3 separate regions of the Homo sapiens genome follow, and regions 2 and 3 are each linked to region 1. The links come from fine-mapping of genetic effects on gene expression. A gene starts in region 1. Each other region holds a variant in brackets. All regions are shown on one strand. Distances are from middle to middle. Region 1 holds the start of CD40LG (CD40 ligand). Region 2 overlaps ARHGEF6 (Rac/Cdc42 guanine nucleotide exchange factor 6). Region 3 has its middle 15 kb from the start of LINC00892.

What was found. PIP is the estimated chance that this variant, and not a neighbour inherited with it, causes the effect.
Region 2: its variant is fine-mapped to the expression of CD40LG in whole blood (TOPMed, PIP above 0.99).
Region 3: its variant is fine-mapped to the expression of CD40LG in whole blood (TOPMed, PIP above 0.99). The same link has a PIP of 0.9 or more in blood mononuclear cells and lung.

Annotation. Positions count from the first base shown.
Region 1 is chrX:136,643,685-136,651,874 of GRCh38, reverse strand. CD40LG (CD40 ligand) reads right to left here and starts at 3,717. Exons shown (of 5, transcript NM_000074.3): 1 at 3,471-3,717; 2 at 1,478-1,609. The coding sequence starts at 3,626.
Region 2 is chrX:136,698,878-136,707,067 of GRCh38, reverse strand. ARHGEF6 (Rac/Cdc42 guanine nucleotide exchange factor 6) reads left to right here. Exons shown (of 22, transcript NM_004840.3): 9 at 38-160. Among named protein-coding and RNA genes, the nearest start is that of CD40LG, 55 kb to the right of the region's middle. The variant G/A (reference allele first, on the strand shown) is at 3,776.
Region 3 is chrX:136,620,097-136,628,286 of GRCh38, reverse strand. No RefSeq gene overlaps it. Among named protein-coding and RNA genes, the nearest start is that of LINC00892, 15 kb to the left of the region's middle. The variant G/C (reference allele first, on the strand shown) is at 4,371.

The DNA of each region.
Region 1 (8,190 bases):
GCTTATCACATAATTGTAGAATGTCAGAGCTGATAGTGCCCTTACAGATAATCTGTCTTCTCATGTTATAGATGACAAAACTGAGGCCCAGAAAGGTGAAGTTATTTACCCAAAGTCACATAGCCAAGCACATTCAGTCTGTTATTTGGATTATTAGCCATTGTTTTGAAAGTGCCTTTATTCACATTTAAACTGGTAACATCTTCCAATACTCTGTAATACTGGCCCAAATCCTCGAAGAACCGAAGAAACTCAAATCATTTTCCTAGCTGGCCAGTCTTGCAAAGAAAGGGTTTAGGAGTTTCATCTAAAGCCTAGATTAGTGTAAAGAACCTGAAAGCAAGCAGCGGATTTGAGCCACATTCTGTTCTCCGTAGGTGACTCAGGAATAAGCTGTTAGAGTCTTCACTAATGAATTAAATGGCACCTCGGTGACAGTACAGGAGGGCAGAAATAAGATCAGAAATAAGATCTTAACCCTTTTACGCCTGCATTAAATTACACATCATCTATATGTGAGAACTAATTCCTGTTGGTTTACCCAGATACCCACCCACCTGGCCCAGAACTGTCCTCAATGTGGAGTGCTGCCTCCTAGAAATGACCCCTAAGTGAGCCGAGGCCCAAGGGTATTTGACTCAGTGTTCTGAAAGGGACATAGGCAGAAAGAACTCTTGATGTTCTGCCTCAGGAGAAAGAGCCCCTAGACCCTATGTCTGTGATGATGGAATTAATGTAAAGGTTCTAAAAATTCTTGTTTTAGGTATCTGTTATAAGCCACAGTCACTGCAGTGACTTCATGCTAGCTACCAGCCTGGTGGGCTAAAAGGCTTTGAACCCTCTGTGCCTCTGGTCATGACCGGCCATAGAGTGGGCGGGCTTCATGAGCAAGTGATATTATATGGAGTCTGGTTTGAGCGACACTGAGAATGTCTATTACTTATTCCCTGCACCTCTCTCCCCAGTAAAAGGGAAAGATCTCACTGTCAGGACACCTAAAATTCCATCATCAGAGAAGCACCAGAGACTGTTACCAGTCTTCAGGTGTCCCTTCACTTGTGGCCTGCTGCCACGGCAGCTGTTGACGGCTATTGCTTCCCTGGGAAATGGGGATCAGACTCTGGGTCCCCAGTGCGAGAGCATCAAGGTTTGGATGGGGAGACACAGCAATGCAAAAACCAAGCTTGGTGGACTTCATCATTTTGCCTAGTGGTAGCTGCATATGTAAGCTGACAAATATGTGTGACTGTGCCCCTAAGGGTGTATTTTCCCCAGAGAGTGTCTTTGTGTTTTTTTTTTTTAACCCCCACACACACACCCATGTATGTGTGTATATCTGCATGCATATATATGTGTGTGTGTGTCTGTGTGTCTGTGTCTATAACCAATCTTTAAACATTGGCATTGTCAGTTTCCCGATCTAGCAAATGTAGTAAAATATTTCAATGACACTTTTACCAGTAATTAAGCTGCTTACCTTCACAAAGCCTTCAAACTGGCTTTTAATCTCCTCACAGTTCAGTAAGGATAAGGATCTTTCTCCTGTGTTGCATCTCTGTATCGTTTTCATGAATACAAAATCTTCATGAAGATTCCTTTCATCTTCTATCTATTTTGGAATAACAAGGATATGATAAATGTCATTCGGAAGGAGAATACAGCTAATGATATCTGCCTCTACATTCATTTCCACGGCATCAACAAGAGGAGGACTTTCAGGCATAAATGGAGAATAATAAGTTATTATATTGGCTGATTGCTATTTTGTATTTGCAGTTTAAAAATCTATAAAAGACAGCAATTAAGATGTCATGTTATCAGAAACTCCAGGTAGAAATCAGAGCTATTCTACTAAATGTTCACTACAAAATGCATATTTTTTCAACATACTATAGCAGCAATATTCTGTAATTGTCACATTTCTCATTGCTTCAGTAATGATTGGTCATTATAAACATCAGCCTAGAAAATAGTTTTCTGCAGAGCTAATTTGCCCACTTCATTTTAGTGTTTGTGATGCAGTGCTTTATAAAAAGAAGTTAATTTGCAATGTGTCAGTTAACGAGTTCTAATTACATCTCTCTCCCTTTTAACTTTAGTATTTGTAGAAAACATTTGCATTTTTAAAGAAATCATCTTTTATCCTCAAAGTAACAAGATATTTTATTTTCCAATGTCTTAGAATAATTAAATGTACAGAATTCACTTGCATTATCAACTAATTTTATACCATTTTCTTGCTTTAAGAGTAGATTTTTTAGATTCAAAACAAGATTCAGTTAGCTGGCAGCTTCTGCTGTAATTAAGAGCACATGTAAATAGTACGGTAAATATCAGTCCACTGAGGTCACTATTGCCCCTTTAGAAGCTAGGCCTATGTCCATACATTTGATTGACAGAGCACATCAGGCCAAACACAAATAACCAACCAGACCAGAAGCCCCCTCTTTTGTCAGCAGTGAAACCTAATATTTGGATAACCCAGTGGATGACTTCAGCCCTCACTACCTCACCTTATCCTGTTAGAAAAATCTCATGACATTAATTCTAGGTCCAGATCCTAAGAGAGGACACTCAAGTATCCCTGATAAAGTGCAATCATCCAGATGCTTTCTAGCCACAGTTCCTGCATCCAGAATTTTAGGAACAGCCAGAAAACTAATCAACTTTCTCCTTTACATCTATGATTGGTATTTTGTCAACACCAGCCAATTATACTCCTCAGTGGAAGTGAAAAAATACATGAAAACAAAATAAGTCCTGATGGTTTTCTTTTCCTAAGAATGCAAAACAGCCTACTAAGTTACTCTGCTCTTTTGTTCCTGCAAGTCTAACCATTTAAAAATGTAAAACATCTCAGAGGGAGACTGAGCATCCTGCAACTACAATCAGTGCTTGTGAAGAATTACACAGAAAATGCTACTTTTACTAAAAGACTGCAAATTCTGGGACTTATCCATGTCTATGTTAATCTGAAGCATTATGAAATTTTAGATCAAATTGACGCTCTTCTTGCCTAGCTGGAAATTTAAAAGAAAAAAGCTGTCTCCATAAAAAAATAGCTTACTTTTAAAGCAGAACTTTAGCAAATAATTATAGCTAGTGCGTACATAGTGCTTACTATGTATCAGACCCCCTCCTAAGCTTTTTACAAGGCTAAACTCACTTAATCTATGAAATGGACACCAATACCATCCCCATTTCTCAGATGTGGAAACTGAGGCACTTGCCCCAGGATAACAGAGATGGTATGGGCAGAGCCAAGATTTGAACCCAGGCAGTCTGACTCCAGATCCCAAGATCCTAACCAGAGACAAGAATATGAGACTTCATTGACTAGGCAACAAACATTATGCCACAAGACCATTCTTCTATTTGGTTTCTACCATCATCCATCATTTGGGTAGAACCAACCTATGAATTAGTAAGGACCCCAAATTTAGTTAATAAAGGCTTGTGGTTCATCTTACCTTGTCCAACCTTCTATGAAGATACACAGCAAAAAGTGCTGACCCAATCATCTGGGTGATAAGAAAAACAGTAAGTAAATACATAAAAATTTTCATGCTGATGGGCAGTCCAGTGGCCGCAGATCGGGGAGAAGTTTGGTTGTATGTTTCGATCATGCTGTGTTAAAGTTGAAATGGTATCTTCTGGCAGAGAAGGTGGCAGAGGCAGCATGAGAAGACTGTCAAAGTGGCCACCTTACTCAGGATTAGTTAAGAGCGCACAATCGTTGCAGCCCACACTTCCTGGAAAATGTGCTTCGTAGTCTTCTCTCCCAGCAAAAACGTTACGTAAAGGTTTTTTGTTTTTTTTTTTTTTTTTAATTATACCCATATCATTCACTTCCAGGCTTTCCTTTTTGTAAGTAAAGAAGAAACAAGTTTCTTCTTCCATATATTCATTCTTGCCTTGAAATGTCATAGACTTCTTAACAGACAATGGCAGTATTTTCCTATCACTGTCTAACTTTTTGGGTTCACCAGTTTCAAGGAAAGTGACAAATTCATCCACCAGCAATAGACTTATTTCAATTTCAATCTTACTAATACGAAGCGGGAACCTGGTATATGGAGAAAGAAACACATGTCAACAAAAGTTTGGATTGATTTTATGACTGGTGTCCCATCAACTAATTGCTTCTCAGAACTTTACTTCTTTAATCACTAAACTCAATGAAAGCCTGGCAGGTTTTCAGGTCAAGTCTACATGGCATAAAGCAAAAAAAGCATGCTGATGGTTATTAAATAAAATTTAGCTGGAAAGATAATGCAAGAAAAATAAATTTTGCAAAGGCAAAGATAAGTAGGGTCTTGAGGGAAATCAGGCCAAGACTCTGGAATTGAAGTTAAAGTAAAAATCGTGACTTGACGTAGCTAAGCTGCCTGTGTACACTGTTCCAATCCATTAGATAATTGTTGATGCTGATGTAACAGTTCAGAATAGGGAAAATAGGCTGCAGTTAAGAGATCTGAATTCTAGTCTTTGCTCTACCAATAAATTGCTATGAGCCTTGGGCAAATCACTTCATCTCTTTAGACCTCAGTTTCCTCATACCCAAAGGAGGCACTTGCACCTGTCTTGCTTATCCTGTAGGTTGCTGTGAAGATCTAATAAAGATGTGCATGGAAGAAATTTGAAACACGTTAAGCAATAAACAATTCTCATCCTGAATTTTTTGGAATTTATTTAGCCTAAGACATGAGTTTAACAAATAATTGCCAACTCCTTACATGTTGGTAAAAACCAAATGAACAATAACAATATTAAAAACACCTTAAGTTTTGACAATGAATTGAATCACTGAAGTGTGTAGGATTACACATTTCTGAAGGGCTTTTGCATCATCTTATCAGATTTCCTTCAAACTAAAAGCAGCTGTGGAAATCCCTACCTCACATCCAAACCTGGTCTAGAAACCATGATAAAATTGCTTTGATGATTCCTATAAAATTGTTTTGAGAGACAAATAGGAAACGTAAAAACTGCTCTGATAGGCATGCTATCTATATAGTTAGCACCTGCTTTCTTCCCCTCCCACGCCCCAGCATCCTGTCCTGGGCCCAGATCTATGTAGCTTTTCACTACATCTGCCAAGTAGGTGGCTTCGATGCACGTGATGAACTTTGATCAGTCAAGTCAGAGGCTTTGGTTCTTAGACAAGTAACCTTAGTTCCACTGAAGGAAAATTATCATGAGAGCCAAAATGGGCTCAAGGACTTCTGCACTGTCAGTTTTATACAACTTGAGAGTGCCAGAGCTGCAGGGGCCCTGCAATCAGCTCAGCCAAGACCCGAGGGAGGGGAGGCTGAAGGTCACAGATTTGTTCACGTGACCAACTTGAAAAAACAGTTGTTGTCCAACCTCCTTGCCTCAACTTCTTGATCCCCAGCCTCCTACAGTCTGACTTCTGCCCACAATATTCCCCTGAAATTGATCCCACCATTATTAGCTCAATAATAGTTTTGGCTGAATACTTCTTAGAGTTTATTTTTAGCGACCTCTCTATTACTCTGTTGACCTATTATCCTGTTGTCATCTTCCTGAATGCTCTCCCCACTTGAATTCTATATCACCCTATTCTTAAGGGCTTCTGCCTCTCAGAATCCTTCTTCATGTTATCTTCTTTCCTCTTTGTATCCCTTAAAACTTTGGTATTCCTTCTCTCTATTTCCTTTCCTTCTCCCTTCTCCTCTCCTCCCCTCTCTTCTTGTTCTCCATGGTTTCATTGGGTGATTCATGGGTTTCATGAACTTTCATGGGTTTCAATCTCACCTTCATTGTGATAAATCTCAAATCTATAACTGAAGTCCTGAACTTCAGAGTTGTAAGCACAGCTACCTCTGAAAATCTCTACTTGGATATCCCAAAGCCATCTTACATTTGGTATGCTCTAAAATTAATTTATCTCACCACTCTAATTCCAATCCAGACCTGTTCTCCCTTAAGATTCTCCGTATCTCTGTGAATGGTCCCACCACCCACTTAATTGCCCAAGTCAGAGATCTGGGATCCATTCATGATTTTTCACTCTCTCTTGCCCCAGATTGCCCCAATCCCAGTGGCTTCTTCCTCCAAAAACCTTGGTTGCCACCACTTCTCTCCATGGCCCCTGCCATCATCCTATTCCAGGCCCATATATCCTCTCCTTTGTAGATTACTGAATTGTACCATCCTAACTTATCTCCCTGTTTCTCTTTCTGTCCCACCCCATCCATCTTTCACACTGACAGCAACTGACTCCAGAATGCCCTGCTTGTACCTCAATTGTTGAAGCCTTCTCTTTCTCTCATCCTTCTGCCTGGTCCTCTACCATAATGCCACAATTGGCTACCTTTCCAGCTTCCTCATTTGGGCTGTTTTTTTGATTTCTGATTCTGCATCAGAAGTTCTTTGTCTCAGAACCTCTCATGCCTGTCTCTCCCTAACAGGGAGTTGGCTCCGTTTTAATATCTTCAGCTGCCTAACACGTCCAAAAATGATTATCAAACTTAGTTTCCAAGAAATGTATACATGTATAGGAGTGCATGCAAGTGTCTATAGCCAAAATCAAATATTGACCATCTTTTTCTAAGTTTACAGAAAGAATTAAGTTAATGGATTGAAGTCTCATTTTTCAGTTATTTTTACACAGAATTTTCTTAAATATTGGTCACCCTTTTCTACTACTACTTTTCTGCTAGCTAGTGATTGATTTGTAGCAAATATCAAGGGAAAAATAAGAAAAACAATGGATCATACTTCAACAGTTTGTTTTTGATGTGAATATGCCTGTGGTTGTGATTTTATATTGATAACCCAGAACACAGTCATAATTTCTGCTTGGAAAATCATTTCCAGTACATATGAAAGAGTTAAATATAACAGTATTTTGTTTGTTGTATGAAGGGCCTCCTAAGGGTTCTTTTCCCTGAATATACCTGAAAAGCTCTAGACTAGAGGAAAGGGTCTCGATTCTTAACATGGCAGATGAGTTGACCCCTGCCCACATTTCTCTCCTCATCGTCTACGACTCATTAGGTCTCAAACATTTTAAGCTAGTTTTATTTCCTGAAATGTGCTGTGCTTATTCATGTTATTTGTGTGCCAAGGCTAATTCTCTCCTGTCTTATCTATTAATGTTTTTTGTTTGTTTGTTTGTTTGTTTGAGACAAAGTCTCACTCTGTCGCCCAGACTGGAGTGCAATGGCACGATCTCAGCTCACTGAAACCTCCATCTCCCAGGTTCAAACGATTCTCCTGCCTCAGCCTCCCAAGTAGCTGGGACTACAGGCTTGCGCAACCGCGCCTGGATAATTTTTACAAAATTTTTTTAGTAGAGACGGGGTTTCACCATATTGGCTAGGCTGGTCTCAAACTCCTGACCTCATGATCTGCCAGCCTCGGTGTCCCAAAGTGCTGGGATTACAGATGTGAACCACAGCGCCCGGCTATCTATTAATGTTTAAGTGAAATATTCTGTTCCAGCTGACAAGGTGCTCTCTTCTGTACTTAATCTTTTTGTTGTTGTTGTTGTTGAGAAGGAGTCTGGCTTTGTCACCCAGGCTGGAGTGCAGTGTCATAATCTTGGCTCACTACAACCTCCACCTCCCGGGTTCAAGTGATTCTCCAGCCTCAGCCTCTTGAGTAGCTGGGATTACAGGCGTGCACCACTCTGCCTGGCTAATATTTGTAAATTTAGTAGAGACGGGGTTTCACCAAGTTGGCCAGGCTGGTCTTGAACTCCTGACCTCAGGTGATCCACATGCCTTGGCCTCCCAAAGTGCTGGGATTACACAGGCGTGAGCCACTGTGCCCTACCTCTTCTGTGCTTAATCTATCATAGCATTTGCCACATCATATCATAATGGACTTGTCTGATTTTTCTACCATTAGCTATTAGAGGAAAAAGATAATTAAAACAAACAAACAAACAAAAAAACCCAGAAATTTTGGTTCCTGACACATTGTAAGGAGTTAGTAAATGTTTGCCAAATTACTAAATATTATTTTAAAGAGATAGAAGGGGAAGTTGTAAAATATTCTAACCTGGGAGAATAGCGCTTGGCTAGCTTTTCTAGCAATACATGTCAGAATATATTTACATTTTCTTCAATTCCCTTAATTCTCCCTCTTTCCTCTGGGTCAGTTCCATTTGTTTATTTTGGTCCTTTTCATTATGTTGCTAGTTTTTCTCAAATGCTTGGC
Region 2 (8,190 bases), 55 kb before region 1:
TATTTTACATTCTGTGTTTTGTCCATTTTGTTTACAGGTTTCCAGAAAACCAGCACAAAGTAGGAGGTTGTCTACTGAGTCTCATGCCTCATTTTAAATCTATGTATCTGGCTTACTGTGCAAACCATCCTTCAGCTGTAAATGTGCTCACTCAGCACAGGTAAATAGTTAACATTTCCCCAACTTTTGCAATGAGATCCTTTCTTAGGACCACGTCATTTGGAAATCCAAGGTCTTCAGTTGGACTCTTGATTATCCCTGTTCATGATGCCAGGAATTGATTCATTGTTACATGGATTGATTGTCCATTAATCCAATGAATAAATTCTTGAGCACCTACTATGTGCAAGGCCCTGTACCAGCTGATGGGGATACAGGAATGAACAAGGAGGAGGAGGTCCTTCCCCTCATTGAGCACAGAATCTTGAGGGAAATGCAGATATTAAATTAAATGTTGTAAACGTGTCATATTATGAAACAGTAAATTAAAAGGGTTCTGTGAGATAACATTAACATGATATCAACTTAGTGGGATGTGAAGAAAGGGTCAGGGAGGGCTTTCCTGAAGCAAAATTCTATTTCGAGCCTATCATTTAGCTTTCCCCTACCCCAATGAATGTTTTTTCTGAGTTGCTGACACATAGCTAAACTGTGTAGCTTCATCTCTTTTTGCCTTCCCTAGTCTGCGTAGAGAAAGTTTTAGGCAATGATGTAGCTACAAAGCAGGTGTGAGCTGTGTGACAGATACTTTAAGCAAAGGGCTCTGATAATAATTATACATGAATATAAGTTGCTTCCGATTCATGATGAACAATAGAATAGTGTCTCCTTTAAGAATACGAGTCCTTGCAAGGGACCTAGATAAGTGTTACACCTCTCCTGCCATCCTTAGCTTCTGACTACCCACCCCTGACACATTCACTGACACATTCATCTGGGCCAGAAAACTGTAGGACAGGCTTAGTGACAGAATTTTACCTTTGAAGTCATATGCTGGAAATCCAGGTGGGACAAAAGCAAGTCCAACATATAGAGACTCTTGACTTAACTTGGAGACTAAGATGCAGAATGGACATGGATTCTGGAAGCTGTTCAAGACTGAAAATAATATTCTCTTAATCTGACCTAGATTTGAGCTCCCAGAGCTAGGCTAGAACATTAGTTGACACGAGCCTCCAGAAATGACAGAAATTTTGGTTCTTGTCCTGGTTTATTAAGGTGCAATATTTATTGGCTTTACAAAGATGTTATGTAAGGACATTTTAAAGGTTGAACGCAGTAAGTCCTGCTTGAAGGTCAATTTTATTCCTCTGATAAATTTTGAACTCTTATGGAATAGCAAATATGGAAATTGGAGTTTAAAGAAAGAGAGGTCATGAACCTGGCATTTTTAGGCAAGTGGCTCAACTGCTTATAGCTAACATTAGCTAGTAATAGCACTGACGATGTGCCAGGCACATGATGTAAAAGCCTATGAGGGAGTTATTATTATTACCATCTCTGCTTTACAGATAAGACATTGGAAGGCTTAGGTTAAGTAATGTGCCCAAGAACTCATAGATCTTAAGTGGTTGAGCCAGAATCCAGGTCTGTCAGACTTCTAAAAAATATTTTTATTAAGACATATATTTTATCCACAGAAAGAATAATGTAAATGCAAATTTAAAGGATCACAATAAAATGAGCACCTGTGTATCTACCACCTGGCTTAAGCAATAGAAAGTTACCCTTTTCTTTTCTCCCTCCCCTCCCCTCCTCTTCCCTTCCTTTTTTTTTTGACAGAGTCTTGCTCTGTCACCGAGGCTGGAGCACAACTGCAACCTCTGCCTCCCAGATTCAAGCGATTCTCCTGCCTCAGCCTCCAGAGTACCTGGGATTACAGGCACGCACCACCACGACCAGCTAATTTTTGTAGAGATGGGGTTTCACCATGTTGGCCAGGCTGATCTCGAACTCCTGACCTCAAATGATCCGCCCACCTTGGCTTCACTTGACGGAGCAAGACTCTGCCTCAGACAAAAAACAAAACAAAAACAAAACAACAACAGCAACAACAACAAAACAAAGTCACTGCACCAATTTATTTTCTCACTATCTGTGTATGAGGGTTTCATTTTCTCCACACCCTCACCAAACATTTGTTATTGTCAGTCTTTTTGATTATAGACATATTAGTGGATATGAAGTGGTTTCTCATGGTGAGATTGATATGCATTTTCCTCAGGAATAATGATATTGAGCATCTGATATGGTTTGGTTCTATGTCCCCACCCAAATCTCATCTTGAATTGTCAACCCTACATGTCGAGGGAGGGACCAGGTGGGAGGTGACTGGATCATGGGGGTGGTTTTCCCCAAGCTGTTCTTATGATAGTGAGTTCTCACGAGATCTGAAGGTTTTATAAGGGGCTCTTCCCCCGTCGCTCTTGCTCTCTTTCCTGCCACCTTGTGAAGGAAGTACTTGCCTTTCCTTCTCCTTCCACCATGATTGTAAGTTTCCTGAGGCCTCCCCAGCCATGTGGAATGGTGAGTCAATTAAACCTCCTTTGTTTATAAATTACCCAGTCTCAGATAGTATCTTTATAGCAGTGTGAAAACGGACTAATACAGCATCTTTCATGTACCTACTGGAAGTTCGTATACCTTCATTCAAAGAAATGTCTATTCAGATCCTTAGCCTGTTTTTAAATTGGGTTATGTGTATTTTTATTGAGATATAATTTATATAACATAAAATTCACGATGTTAAACTACGCAATTCAGTGGTTTTTAATATATTCACAAGGTTGTGTAGCCATCACCACTGTCTAGCTCCAGAACATTTTTATTACTCCCCTCTAAAAACCTGTCCCCAGTAACAGTCACTCATTATTAATGGCTAGTGATGTTGCGCATCTTTTCATCTTGCTTATTGGCTATTTTAATGTCTTCTTTGGGAATATGTCTATTTAAATCTTTTGCTCATTTAAAAAATTCAGTTAGCTATCTTTTCATTGTTGAGTTGCAACAGTTCTTTATATATTCTGGATATTAGATTCTTACCAGATACATGTCTACCTTGGAGATACTGTGGATCCAAACCACTACAGTGAAGTGAATATTGCAATGAAGTGAGTCACATGAACTTTTTGGTTTCCAAATGAATACAAAAGTTATATTTACACTCTACTGTATAGTCTATTAAGTGTGCAATAGCATCATGTCTAAAAAAGCAAGGTACATTCCTTAATTAAAGAATACTTTATTGGCTGGGCGTGGTGGCTCATGCCTGTAATCCCAGCACTTTGGGAGGCCAAGGCGGGCGGATCACCTGAGGTCAGGAGTTTGAGACCAGCCTGACCAACATGGAGAAACCCCATCTCTACTAAAAATACAAAATTAGCTGGGCATGCTTGCACATGGCTGTAATCCCAGCTACTTGGGAGGCTGAAGTAGGAGAATCACTTGAACCTGGGAGGCGGAGGTTGCCGTGAGCCGAGATTGCGCCATTGCACTCCTGCCTGGGCAACAAGAGTGAAACTCCGTCTCAGGAAAAAAAATAAAAAAAGTTTGGAGTATTGTAAGAATTACCAAAATATGACACATAGACACAAAGTGAGTACGCACTTTTGGAAAAATGGCACCGATAGACTTGCTCAACACACGGTTGCCACAAAACTTCAATTTGTAAAAAATGCAATTATCTGTGAAGTTCAATAAAGTACACTGCAATAAAATGAGGTGTGCCTATATATGATTTGAAAAAATATGCTTTCATTTTTTGGGTTGTGTTTTC[G/A]GTTTCTTGATGGTGTTCTCTGAAGCACAAAAATTTTGATTTTACATTTTAATTTTGATGATGTCCAATATGTTGTTTTGTTGTTGTTGCTTGCACTTTTGGTGTTGTATCTAAGAAATTATTGCCTAATCCAGGTCATGTAGATTCATGCCTATTTATTTTCTTAGAGTTTTATAATCTTAGCTTTTATATTTAGGTCTTTAATTAATTTTGAGTTAATTTGTGCATATGGTTCCATTTTATTCTTTTGCATGTGGATATCTAGTTGTCCCAGCACCATTTGTTGATTTCTATTCTTATAAATTGAAGTTGTGTTTTATGGCCCATAACGTGGTCTATCTTGGTGAATGCTCCATGTGAGTGTGAGAAGAAAGTGTGACTGTTGTTGAATGAAATATTCTACAAATGTTAATTAGAACCACTTGACTGATGGTTCTATTCAGTTCAACTGCCTGCTTACTAATTTTCTGCTGCTGGATCTGTCAGTTCCTGATAGAGAGATGTTAAATTCTAACCACAATAGATTTATCTCTCTTTTCAGTTCTATCAATTTTTGTTTCATGTATTTTGATACTCTGTTGTTAGGTGCATTCACATTAAGGATTATTATGTTTTGTGGGAGAATTTGCCCTTTTATCATTGTATATTTTTCCTCTTTATCTCTGATAATTTTCCCTGATCGGAAGTCTGCTTTGTCTGAAATTAATACAGCTAGTCCAGCTTTCTTTCAATTATTGTTAATAGGATATATCCTTCTTCATCTCTTTACTTTTAATTGTCATAGATTAAAATATATGTTGTAGACAAAATATATTTGAGTCTTGTTTCTTAATCCACTCTGACAGTCTCATTCTTTTAATTGGCGTATTTAGAAAATTCACATGTTAAGTGATTATTTATATATTTGGATTAGTATCTGCCATGTTTTCTATTCATTGCAATTGTTCTTTGTTTCTTTTTTACCTCTATTTTTCCGCCTTTTCTGTTTTTAGTAAACATTTTATTTTCACTTTTCTCTTAGCATATAATACTCCCTTTAAAAAATTTTACCAGTATCCCTAGAGTTTATGTTATGTATTTACAGCTAAATCTAACAACACTTTCACATAACACTACACAATTTCATAGGTAACTTATAACAGAATATTCTCAATTCCTCCCTCTTATCCCTTATAATATTATTGTAATTCATTTCACTTTTCTATAAAGTAAAATCACCCAATACACTGTTGCTATTATTACTTTGAACAGTTATCTATTAAATCAATTAAGAATAAGAAAAATGAGGCCGGGTGCGGTGGCTCGCGCCTGTAATCCCAGCACTTTGGGAGGCCGAGGTGGGCGGATCACGAGGTCAGGAGATCGAGACCATCCTGGCTAACACAGCGAAACCCTGTCTCTACTAAAAATACAAAAAATTAGCCGGGCGTGGTGGTGGGCGCCTGTAGTCCCAGCTACTAGGGAGGCTGAGGCAGGAGAATGGCGTGAACCCGGGAGGCGGAGCTTGCAGTGAGCCAAGATGGCGCCACTGCACTCCAGCCTGGGTGACAGAGCGAGACTCCATCTCAAAAAAAAAAAAAAAAAAAAAAAGAAAAATGAAATATTTTGTTTTACCTGGATTTATTATTTTTGATACTTTTTTCCATGTATCCAAGTTTTGTTTGTTGTTTTTAAATCTATATCACTTTCCTTCTCTCTGAAGAACTTCTTTTAACATTTTTGCAAGGCAAGTCATCTGGCCACAATTTCCCACATTTTTTGTTTGTTTGAGAAAGTATTCAGAATTCTAGGTTGTCATTTTTTTCCTTCAACACTTTAAATATTTCATTCCATTCTGTTGTTTGCATGGTTTATAATGAGAAGTCTGATACAATTCTTATCCTTGTTCCTCTACAGGTAAGGTGTTTTTCCCTGTCTGGCTTCTTTCAAGATTTTCTCGTTGCTTTTGCCTTTCTGCAGCTTGAATATGAAATGGCTAGGTGTAGATATGTTTTGCTATATATCCTGCTTGGTGTTCTCTGAGATACCTGGATCAGCAGTTTGGGGTCTGTCAATAATTTTGCAAAATTCTTGGCCTAATAGGGTCAACATTTTAAATATTTCTTCTCTTTTCTCTTTCTTTTCTGTCTATATTCCCATTATGCATGTTACACCTTTTGTACTTGTTCCACAGTTTTTGTGTATTCTCTTCCATTTAAAATTTTTTTCTTTACATTTAAGTTTAGGAAATTTCTATTGACATATCTTGAAGCTCACTGTTTCCTCAGCTATGTTTAGCCTATTTGTTAGACTATCAAAGGCATTCTTCATTTCTGTCACAGTGTTTTTTATTTCAGGCATTTTCTTTTGATCATTTCTTAGTGTTTCTATCACTCTGCTTACATTACCCATCTTTTATTACATGTTGTCTATCTTTATCTGTTAGAACCTTTAACATATTAACCATAGTTATTTTGAATTCCCTAATAATTCCAAAATTTGTGTCATATCTGAGTCTGATTCTAAAGCTTGCTTTGTCTCCTCAGACTGTTTTTTTCTTGCCTTTCAGCATGCCTTGTAATGTTTTGTTGGAAGGCAGACATGATAAATTAAGTAATAGGAACTGAGGTAACTAGGTGTTTACTGTGAGGTTTTCTGTTAATCTGACTAGGATCTTGCCTGTGTTTAATGTTTGCTGTAGCTGTAAGTATGAGGGGCTTTAGATTTTTTTTGTTTCCTTTCCTTCTCTCTTATTAACTTTGGCTTTCTTTCTTTCCTTTCTTTCCTCTTTTTTTTTGTCTCACTGTCTCCCAGGCTGGAGTGCAGTGGCGCGATCTCAGCTCACTGCAACCTTTGCCTCACAGGTTCAAGCAATGTTCATGCCTCAGCCCCCTGAGTAGCTGGGATTACAGGCATGTGCCACCACGCCTGGCTAATTTTTTTGTATTTTTAGTTTAGACAGGGTTTCATGAAGTTGGCCAGGCTGGTCTCAAACTCCTGACCTCAAGTGATCCACCTGCCACAGCCTCCCAATCCTGCTGAGATTGCAGGCCTGAGCCACCGCGCCCTGCCTATCTTTGGGTTTCTTAAGAACTCCTTCTTAAATAGAGTCTGTGTCTTGCAGATCCCTCCCTGTAATCCACTGTTATTATATATTGGGGCCCTGTCAATGTGGTGATAAGGTGTTGGGGAAGGGGACACATTCTATAATGTTATGAACAAGTCTCAATTTTTTAGTAGACCTGAGTCCCTGGAAATTGACCTCCAGAAGCAATTCTTAGCCTTTTTTAGTCCTCTCACATATGGCAGGAAGATGAGAGAGGGCTGAAGCTGGCCTATTGTACCTTCCTCAGGTCAGATAAGACTTGGCAACATAGTTTCCCTTGGAAGACAGGCCTTTGTTTTGGAAAAGGTTCTGGGATTATTTCAAAATGGATGCTCCACCCCGCCCCCACTCCTATCCCAAAACATGAGAGGATTTTTCTCTGATCTTCACTATGGAACATTTTTGGGTTTTTGGATCCCAAACCCACAAAAGCATTGCCCCGCCTCAAGATGGTTCTCCAGGAGCTTTTAAATCTCAAGTTGGGGTCCACATTCAGACTCCAGGAATTCATTAAAATCACTATGCAAGTGTTCCTGCCAGTTACTGGGTCCAGTGGCTTCTGCTTTAGGGAAGCTAATCTCAGCTGTAATTCTCTGTATTCACTGTTTCTCCAGATTTTGAGGTGGTGATTTTTTCTGTGATCTCAATTCTCAGTAAATCTAACAAAAGTCATTGATTTTCAGTTTGTTCAGTATTTTTTTAATTATGACTATAGTGTGATGACTTCCAAGCTCTTTCGATGTCAGAGCTGAAATCAGAAGTGCTTTAATGATTTTTTCACTATATTTTATTTTTTTATTATTTTAAACGTTTTTGTTATAAATTTTCTCTATAATATTTCACTATATTTTGGGGTGTCTTTTAGTGGTTACTCTAAAACTTTCCATATATATCTTATCAGAATGGACTTCATTTTTTATGCTAACTTAATTCTAGTTATATATAAAAATGTGACTCCTGTATAACTGTTTCCTCTTCCCTTTTTGTTATTATTATTATAAATATGAACTCCATATACACAATAATACATGCTATAATTGTTATTTAATTTTATGTCCATTAATACAACTGAGAGAAGAAAGGAAAGGAAAAATATATTTATAGTGTTTGTTATATTAACTTTCTTATTTACCATTTCTATTTCCCTTCATTTTTTCCTGTGAATTTGTGTTACTATCTGGTATTATATTCTTATTCCAACAGACCTTTGCTCCCACCTTTCTCCTTCATGCTGTGGTTTTCAAATATATTAAATTTATGTGTGTATAGGTCCAACAATGAAATTATAAAATTTTGCTTTGGCCAATTGCTTTTATATCAGTTAAGAGAA
Region 3 (8,190 bases), 24 kb after region 1:
TCAACCCATTGAGATTCTCTGTTTCTGGAAGACTGGGGTAGGTGAGGGGAAAAATCAACTCATGGTTTCAGCCTGGGGACTTGATTGTATAATACCTGCACAGAAACCCCTCTTTTAAATAAAATTCTGAAAAAGCATAAAAGTAATTTAACAATATTACCAAAAAAGGAGAAAAGGAATACAATTACCAATTACTCAAAAACCTACCTTTCTAACATAACTATTGTTGTCATATTTCCTTCTTAGTCTTATTTTTATATATTTTTTTCATGGTTATAATAATAGAATACATGTAATTTTTGCATCCTGCTTTTTTTCACTTAGCCTTTCCTAATAAGCGTTTTTCTATGTTGCCTCATATTTTAATAGCCACTGTTTTAGAAGGCAAGATGATAAAATATTTCCCTTTAATGACATCACATCACTGTGAAATTGTGTTTTTTCTCCTATTTCTCTGCAATAGATACAAGGTTAAGAGGTTCAAGATATGACTTCTGTCCTCAAAGAGCTTTTACTTTTTCTGGCAGGGATAGTCATTTCTTCAAAGACCCTTAAGTTGGAGCTGCATGAGCCGCATCAAGTTCACGAGAAATGGAGTATGTATGAGTACCACTGGATGAGTCATTTTTAGTGACCCAAGTCTCCCACCCTCAAACTTAGATCCTATATTGGCACCTATCACCTACATGACCTACTCCCAGCTAAAGAGGTGTTTCAGTGGCCTTGATGTGGGGGTTGTGTGTGTGTAAGCCTCTCCCACATCCTTTTAATCTGGTTGTTTGGTTTGCTGGAGAGTGTGCCCCGGTGGGTTTACACCCCACCCCCGTGGTAACCAATTAAGAAGATTCTAGCAACTTGGAGGACATCAAGTTAAATCCCAACATGAGAAGCAGAATCTTTCTGACACTAACTGGCTCAGCTGATGGAAGTGTCACTGAGACTCTATAATCCTGATAAGAATGACTGCATTTTGTCACATTGCTGAAAACCTCTAACCCTAAGTTTTACTTAGAGGCCAGTTAATGCTTAGGACTCTTTGAAATCTATAATTTGTGGTTGTTGATTTGCACAGGAATTGCCAACCCAAACCATTTGCATCATGGGCCTCTTTTATTAGGATGGACCCTTTTTAGTATCCTAGATTACATGAAAGAAGCATGTTCTTGATACAAGGAAATCTTCATCACTGGCTGCCAAACCTCAGGAAATAACAAAGCCACCAGCACCATTGTGTTCTCAAGCGAAAAAAGTCATTTGAACATTTGGTGTCTTTGGGTATACTAAGAGCTATTCTGACTTCTAAACAGGGTACTAGCCCTTTAGCCAACATTCTGCTAAAAAAAAAAGACCTTTCTGTGCTTTTCTAACTGACTCTACAGTATGTTTTTTAAACTGAGCCCAAGAGTTATTGACTTTGGTCAATAGTTTCCTAGATCAATTGAAATAAGCAGCTTTTCCTGAGGAACCAAACTCAAGCATCCCAGGTACTGGAATGTGGGCAATGCCAGATGATTTGAAAATCAAAGTTTAAACTTTGAATTATAGAAATACTGTGAAAAACAGGTGTCACAATAAGGCCCAGTAAAACATCCTTCAATGCCATTCCCTACAGTTCGTCAGAGGGAATCTTGAATACTCAAATTTTTTCCTCATCTTTAAGAACAGCTTCTGTTCATTTCCCTGCTAGAAGGTGGCAGATGGTACTCCACCCTTACAAAAAGTCTCTCCCATTTGAATTGCCTACTTAGCTTCCTCAGTAAAATATTTCAGTAGTTTGTCCACAGCCATTAGTCTTCCTCTAATTGCTCTGACTCAAATGAAGATTGACTTTGTGGTTGGAAATTTCGTGACATTACCAAGAAAGCTCAGTCAGTACCAGGACTCTTCTCAAACTTCTATTTGCAAACCCAAGGAAAGACCTTTAGCAGGAAAGGACAAAATACTGATATGCAAAACAATTATGTGATGTTTGGTAGAACTCAAATGATTAGTGAACCTACCCTTCTCTCCGTTTTTTTTTTTTTTTTTTTTTTTTTGGTCAAAGGAATGAGTTCAAGGAAATAGTGAGGGTACCTACTGATCGTTTGTGTTCATGAGGGACAAACAGGTTCTGGAAAATTAAAAGCCAGGCAATATCAAAAGTTTATGTTAAGCTAGTACTTTCAAAACTATTTCTCACTAAAGCTTTATTTTTGCTTTTCTCCTTGCTCTGGATCATTCTTTGCTGGAAGTGGAAATATGGCTTTCACAGCTAGAAAGCACTTGAGGACATCATCAGCTGTATTAAGGATCAAACTAGAAGCTAAGAGCAGCATGGGGTCCAGGCATGATCCTGTTTCTAAATAGATGATAGGGATGGGGCAGAGTGGGTAATACATCATAGACTCATGAAATGTGAAGGTGAAGGAGATCTTAGAGCAATGAAACTTATTAAAAATGCAGATTCTAAGACTCTAACACCAGAGATTCTGATCCAGTGGATCCGGGCTGGGAACAAATACATCAGGTGATTGTGCTGCCAGTGGTCCATGCTGGGCTACTTTGAGAAAGCCTACCTTAGCAGGATGGTTATAGAGCCCATTTATTTTACAAAGTAGCAAACAGAGGCCCTGAGACATTGGTCATTTGCTCAAGGGCCTTGAGAACAAAATTAAGATGCCAGGTTACTCAGCCCAGGGCCTTTTCCTCTCTGTGATGGTCCTAGTGAGAGTCCTTTTTCCTTCCGGGCTTTCCATGTGAGTGTGTACCAATGGCCAAGGATTCCAGTTGGCCTGTTGTTTCCAGCTACAGCCAGTATTACTGCTCACTAGAAGCTTTAGACTGAATGGGCTGTGCTAGCAGGGGAGGGGCACCCACAAGAAGGATCTGGCCCCCTCAGCTTCATTGTTCCCTGTAAACTGACTGAACTGCAACACAGACTTCCTTGGGGCCAGAGTGCCAGGCTGTAAGGACAAAGTGTCATTTCTGTTGGCTAAGCCAGCCAGCTATTTCACATCCAGTTACACATCTGGATCCCTGGGCCCTCGAATATATCTATTCTGTTGAGAACTTTCCCCAGGAGACCCGACCCCTTGACATATACACAGTATTAAAAACTTGAACATCTGGTCACCTTACCTAGCCAAAAACAAAAATATTAATTGACCACATATATATAGCGTATTAGTTTGCTAGGGCTGCTGTAACAAAGTACCATAAACTGGGTGTGGCTTAAACAACAGAAATTTATTGTTTCACAACTATGGAGACTGGCAGTACAAAATCACAGTGTCAGCAGGATTGGTTCCTTTTGGAGATGCAGAGGGAGGGTCTGTTTTATCTCTCTCCTGATGGTTTGCTGACAATCTTTGGTGTTCCTTGGTATGTAGATGCATTCATAACGATCTCTGCCTTCATCTTCACATAGCATTCTCTCTCTCCCTCTCTCTCTCTCTGTCTCTGTGTGCGTGTGTGTGTGTGTGTGTGTGCGTGTGTCTGTATGTGTGTTCGTGTCTGTCTCCCAATTTCCCCTTTTTATAAGGACAGCAGTTATATTGGATTAAGAGCTCACCCTACGCCAGTGGGGCCTCATCTTAACTAATTACATTTGCAATAACCATATTTCCAAATGAGGTCATATTTTGAAGTACCAGGGTTAGGATTTCAATCACCAGTAGTACTAAGGATCAAACCAGAAGGCAAGAGCAGCACAAGACCCAGACATGATCCTGTTTCTAAATAGATTATGGGGATGGGGCAAAGTGGATAATATGTTATAGACTCATGAAATGTGAAGGTGAAGGAGATCTTAGAGCAGTGGAACTCATTAAAATGCAAATCCCAAGACTCCAACACCAGAGATTCTGATCCATTAATTTCAAGGGACACAATTCAATGCATACCATGTCATCTTTGTTTAGTCCAACAATAAATAGGGATGAGCAACTGGTAGTGGAGGTGAGACGGGTGAGGAGTGGAGAGAAGAGCAGAAGAGTAGAAACAAACCTGAGTATAGGGCTGCTTAGTGAAGAGAGAAGTGTTTGTTAAGCAAGAGAACTCAGATGTCAGGGAGGAAATTCCATCAATTCAATATTAAAATTATGCACCATATACCTTTTATTTGCAAAATTCAACATTTCATAAGGACAGATGAATGTTTCGTGAGAACGCTCCACGTGCATGAAGTAATATTTTGTTGACAGAATGTGCTCTTCTGAATCAAGAAAAAAAGATAATCATGCCCTTTTTTATTCTTTGGAGCTTTCTAATATAGAGTTCTCCAAATCTCCTAACTTTAAGAGAAAAATAGAAAACATTAGCTTAGAGATTTTTTTTAAAAGATATAGAGGCATTTTACTACTGAGAACGTAAATAGAGATGTTATAGACCTC[G/C]TATTCAGATGCTCCAAAGGTGTGGTTTGCTACGGCTAACTTTGAAAAATAGAGGATATAGCTCACGGGTAGCCTGGCAAGAGGAGGGAGGACATGTAATCAGGAGCGGGATGGAAAAAGCCAACTTGGTGATGACAAAATTGTCTTGAATCAGTCCTATAGTTCACTAACAAAGATTAGGAAGCTATTTTTAATAGGAGAGAGAGGGGCCACCCAACAGACACTGCCAAGATCACCCACTGTTGTGGTTCAGGCTAGCCTCAGGCTTAGGGTACTACAGGAGAACTAGCAAGTGAGTGCTGAGTCACCTACCCAGAGTTTCTAGAAGACAGAGGTGGGCAATTCTGGGGTTTGATGGTCACAGAGTGTGGCTTCTGGTGGGCCACAGTCTAACTACTCCAGATCTCAACAACAGTGAAAAGAGGAAAGAGAAATGCTTGGTGCACGGAAGTTATAACTTGAAGGTTTAAACTTCAACTTAATGCTTCTGTTTTGTCTATTTAGTGGCCTATCCATGGGCCAATTTTTATTCACAGGTTCATTTATTACTTGAAGCAGCATAATAACTTACGTAGCATTTACTATGTGCCAGGTGCTAAGTATTTTACAAATAATAACTCACTTAATCCCCACAACAGATGAGGAAATGGAGGTACACAAAGATGAAGTAACTTGCCTAAGGTTATTGTGCTAGCAAGTTGGCAGAGCCAAGATTAGAACCTTAGCAGTCTGACTTCAGAGTCTATGCTCACCATCACTGCAACTGCATACTGCCTACTCACTGCATGTGAAGGAAGATCAGTGGAGGCAAGCAAGTCCACTATCCAGAACCATCAGGGGAAACACTCTTCTAGAGAAGCTCATTTTTCAAGTACAATCAAGGGCTGCATAATGACATTTTGGTCAACATGGAACTGCATATACAAAGGTGGTTCCATAAGATTACAATATCGTATTTGTTTACTGTACCTTTTCTATGTTTAGATATGTTTAGATACACAGACACTGAGCACTGTGTTACAATTGCCTACAGCATTCAGTACAATAACATGCTGTACAGGTTTGTAGCCTAAGAGCAATAGGCCATACCATATAGCCTAGGTGTGTAGTAGGTGATACCATCTAGGTTTGCGTAAGCGCACTTTATGATGTTCATACAATGAGGAAATTGCCTATCAATATACTTCTCAGAATGTAACCCTGTCATCAAGCAATGCATGATGCTAGTTGACGGCCAGTCTTTTACAAGTGGAAACTTCCAAAGTATAGCTGTTGTTGGAAAGAAACTTCCTGAAATGTTATCTCCCAACAGAAGACTCTAAACATGTGGTCATGTTTTCTTGAAGATTATATGTTTCATTATGAACATTATTCATGCATTCACTCCACATTTATTAAGTGCTTGTGATGTTATTGTAGATGCCAATGGTGACTGCACTGAACTCTAGCTGAATGAGCTTTTTGGTCACTATAGGACAACAGAGCCCCAGTGTTCTACCTGAATGCTGCAGCATACCGGTTGACATGTCTTCAGCTGGATTGGCTCTACGATTAGATAGACCTTAGGTGATTCATGTTCAAGTGACTCTACCACTTACCAGCTTCGTGACTTTAGGTAAGTCAATGAGCTTTAGTTTCCTCATCTGTCAAAGGAAGATAATTATGTCTCGCCTCAACGGTTGTGAAGACCCAAATGTCATAATGCAGGGAAAGCACAGTGCCTGGCCCCTAGTGAACCCTGTGATCACAAACCAAGCAGAAGATTCCTCTCATTCTACATAGGAAACCCACTCTTCTTAAGCATTGGGTATCACCTCAGGGGCTTTGGTCTTCCCAGCTCTGTTCTTTTGCGGCTGCATGCTCAAGTGCAGCTTCTAAGCTATTGCAGAAGCCTTTCCCCGTCCTGAGCCAAGCAAACCTAGGCCTGTCTGAATGGGAGAAATAACATGGGCTAGTGGTTGACATTGCTCAAGCATTATGCCTTGTACAAAGTAGGCACTCAATGAGTGGCAACTCGAATGAAGTAAACAATAAGCAAAGTGGTTGATTCACCTGGCTTGCCTCACCCTCACCCCGCCTTGGTTGTGCCTCACTTTCTCCGCCTGTATGTGAGCCTAATAATACTTGCCACCTACACACCTTATTGCTGTTGTGAGGGTTATCGTGGGCAAAGGCCATAGAGTGCGGGGGATCATTAAAAGGTGTACATCTAACAAAGTGGAAACCTTTGAACTTTCAGAGCTGTGGGGTTGTCATGCGGAGACCTGTTATCTTCACCTTTCAAACTCCTCTTCAGCATTTCAATTATGTTAGAAGTGAAAAGTGTTCCCTTCCGGCCTTGAGCCAGTGCATACATATCCAGGAGAGTGTCTTGGCCTCTAGGCAGCCTGTACTCCAGCTTACCTTTCACCAAAAGTCCACTGAAGTGAAATAAGCCAGGCACAGAAAGACAAACATCGCATGTTCTCACTTACCTGTGAAATCTAAAAATCAAAGCAATTGAACTCACGGAGGTAGAGAGTAGAAGGATGGTCACCAGAGGCTGGGAAGGGTGGTGGGTAGAGGGGGAGGTGGGGATGGTTAGTGGATACAAAAAATAGTTAAAGAATGAGTAAGACCTATGGTTTGATAGCACAACGGGGTGGTTATAATCAATAATAACTTAATCATACATTTAAAAATAACTAGAAGAGTGTAATTGGATTGTTTGTAACACAAAAGATTAATGTTTGAGGGGATGGATACCCCATTCTCCATGATGTGCTTATTACACATTGCAAGCCTGTATCAAAATACCTAAAGTATCTCATAAATATATATACCTACTATGTAACCACACAAATTAAAATTTTTTAAAATACATACATAAAGTTCATTGCATGATGGTGACTAACTGACCCACACTTCCTATCACTGCCACATCTGCTAGTTAATGTTAAGGGAGAACAAAGGGTAGTCTGTTTGCCCCATAAAAAATTGTTTGGGTTCTGAATTGTCAAAGGCTATGGGGAAGGGTGAATGATTTATTTTCAGGAGACCTTGCTTAAAAATCATTTCAGTTCATTATTATTTCATTCACACCACAAATATTCATCAAGCACCTATTGTGTTCCAGACACTGTTCTAGGCACTGAAAGATACAGGAGTGAACAAACGGACAAAGTCCCTGTCCTCATAAACATTATTGAGAGAGTAGACAAACAATAATCAAATAGATAAATTAACAAGATGCTTTCAGGTAGTAATAAAGATTATGAAGAAAATGAAATGGGATAATTGGTTAGATGACCAGGATGGGGAAGATGGTTTCACTGGAATAATTAAGAAAGGTTTCACTTAAACTAGCTCATTTCACCCTGAGGCTTGGAGATGAGAGGTCACAGGGCTTGGGTGTCCATTTTAGAGATTTCTCACCCTATCTGAGATTCTCTTCAAATTTTAAGTATGACCTAAAGCGGTTGCACCCACACTACTCATGCCTTATTGCGAATTTGGTGTCAAATCCTTTTCACTCCATCCAGAGGGATGAACCAAAACGTGGACTGAGGAACCGAGTGGGGTAGAGGATGAGGTGGGGTAGAGAAGGAACCCTTCGCAGCCACTGTGTCATCGTTTCCGCCTTCATATCAAGGTGCTTTACCCCTCAGGAACAATCTTTAGATGACGAGTGACTAGAAATTGGTTTGAGAGATTTCCAAAGCTGTAGATCTTGTGATCACTGTTGCCATACCTGCGTTCTTCCCTTCCTATCAACAAACACTGGAAAAGCTCTGATTCAGGGCAATGGGCTTGCCATACGGGCCTCTTGTTCTGAGTCAGA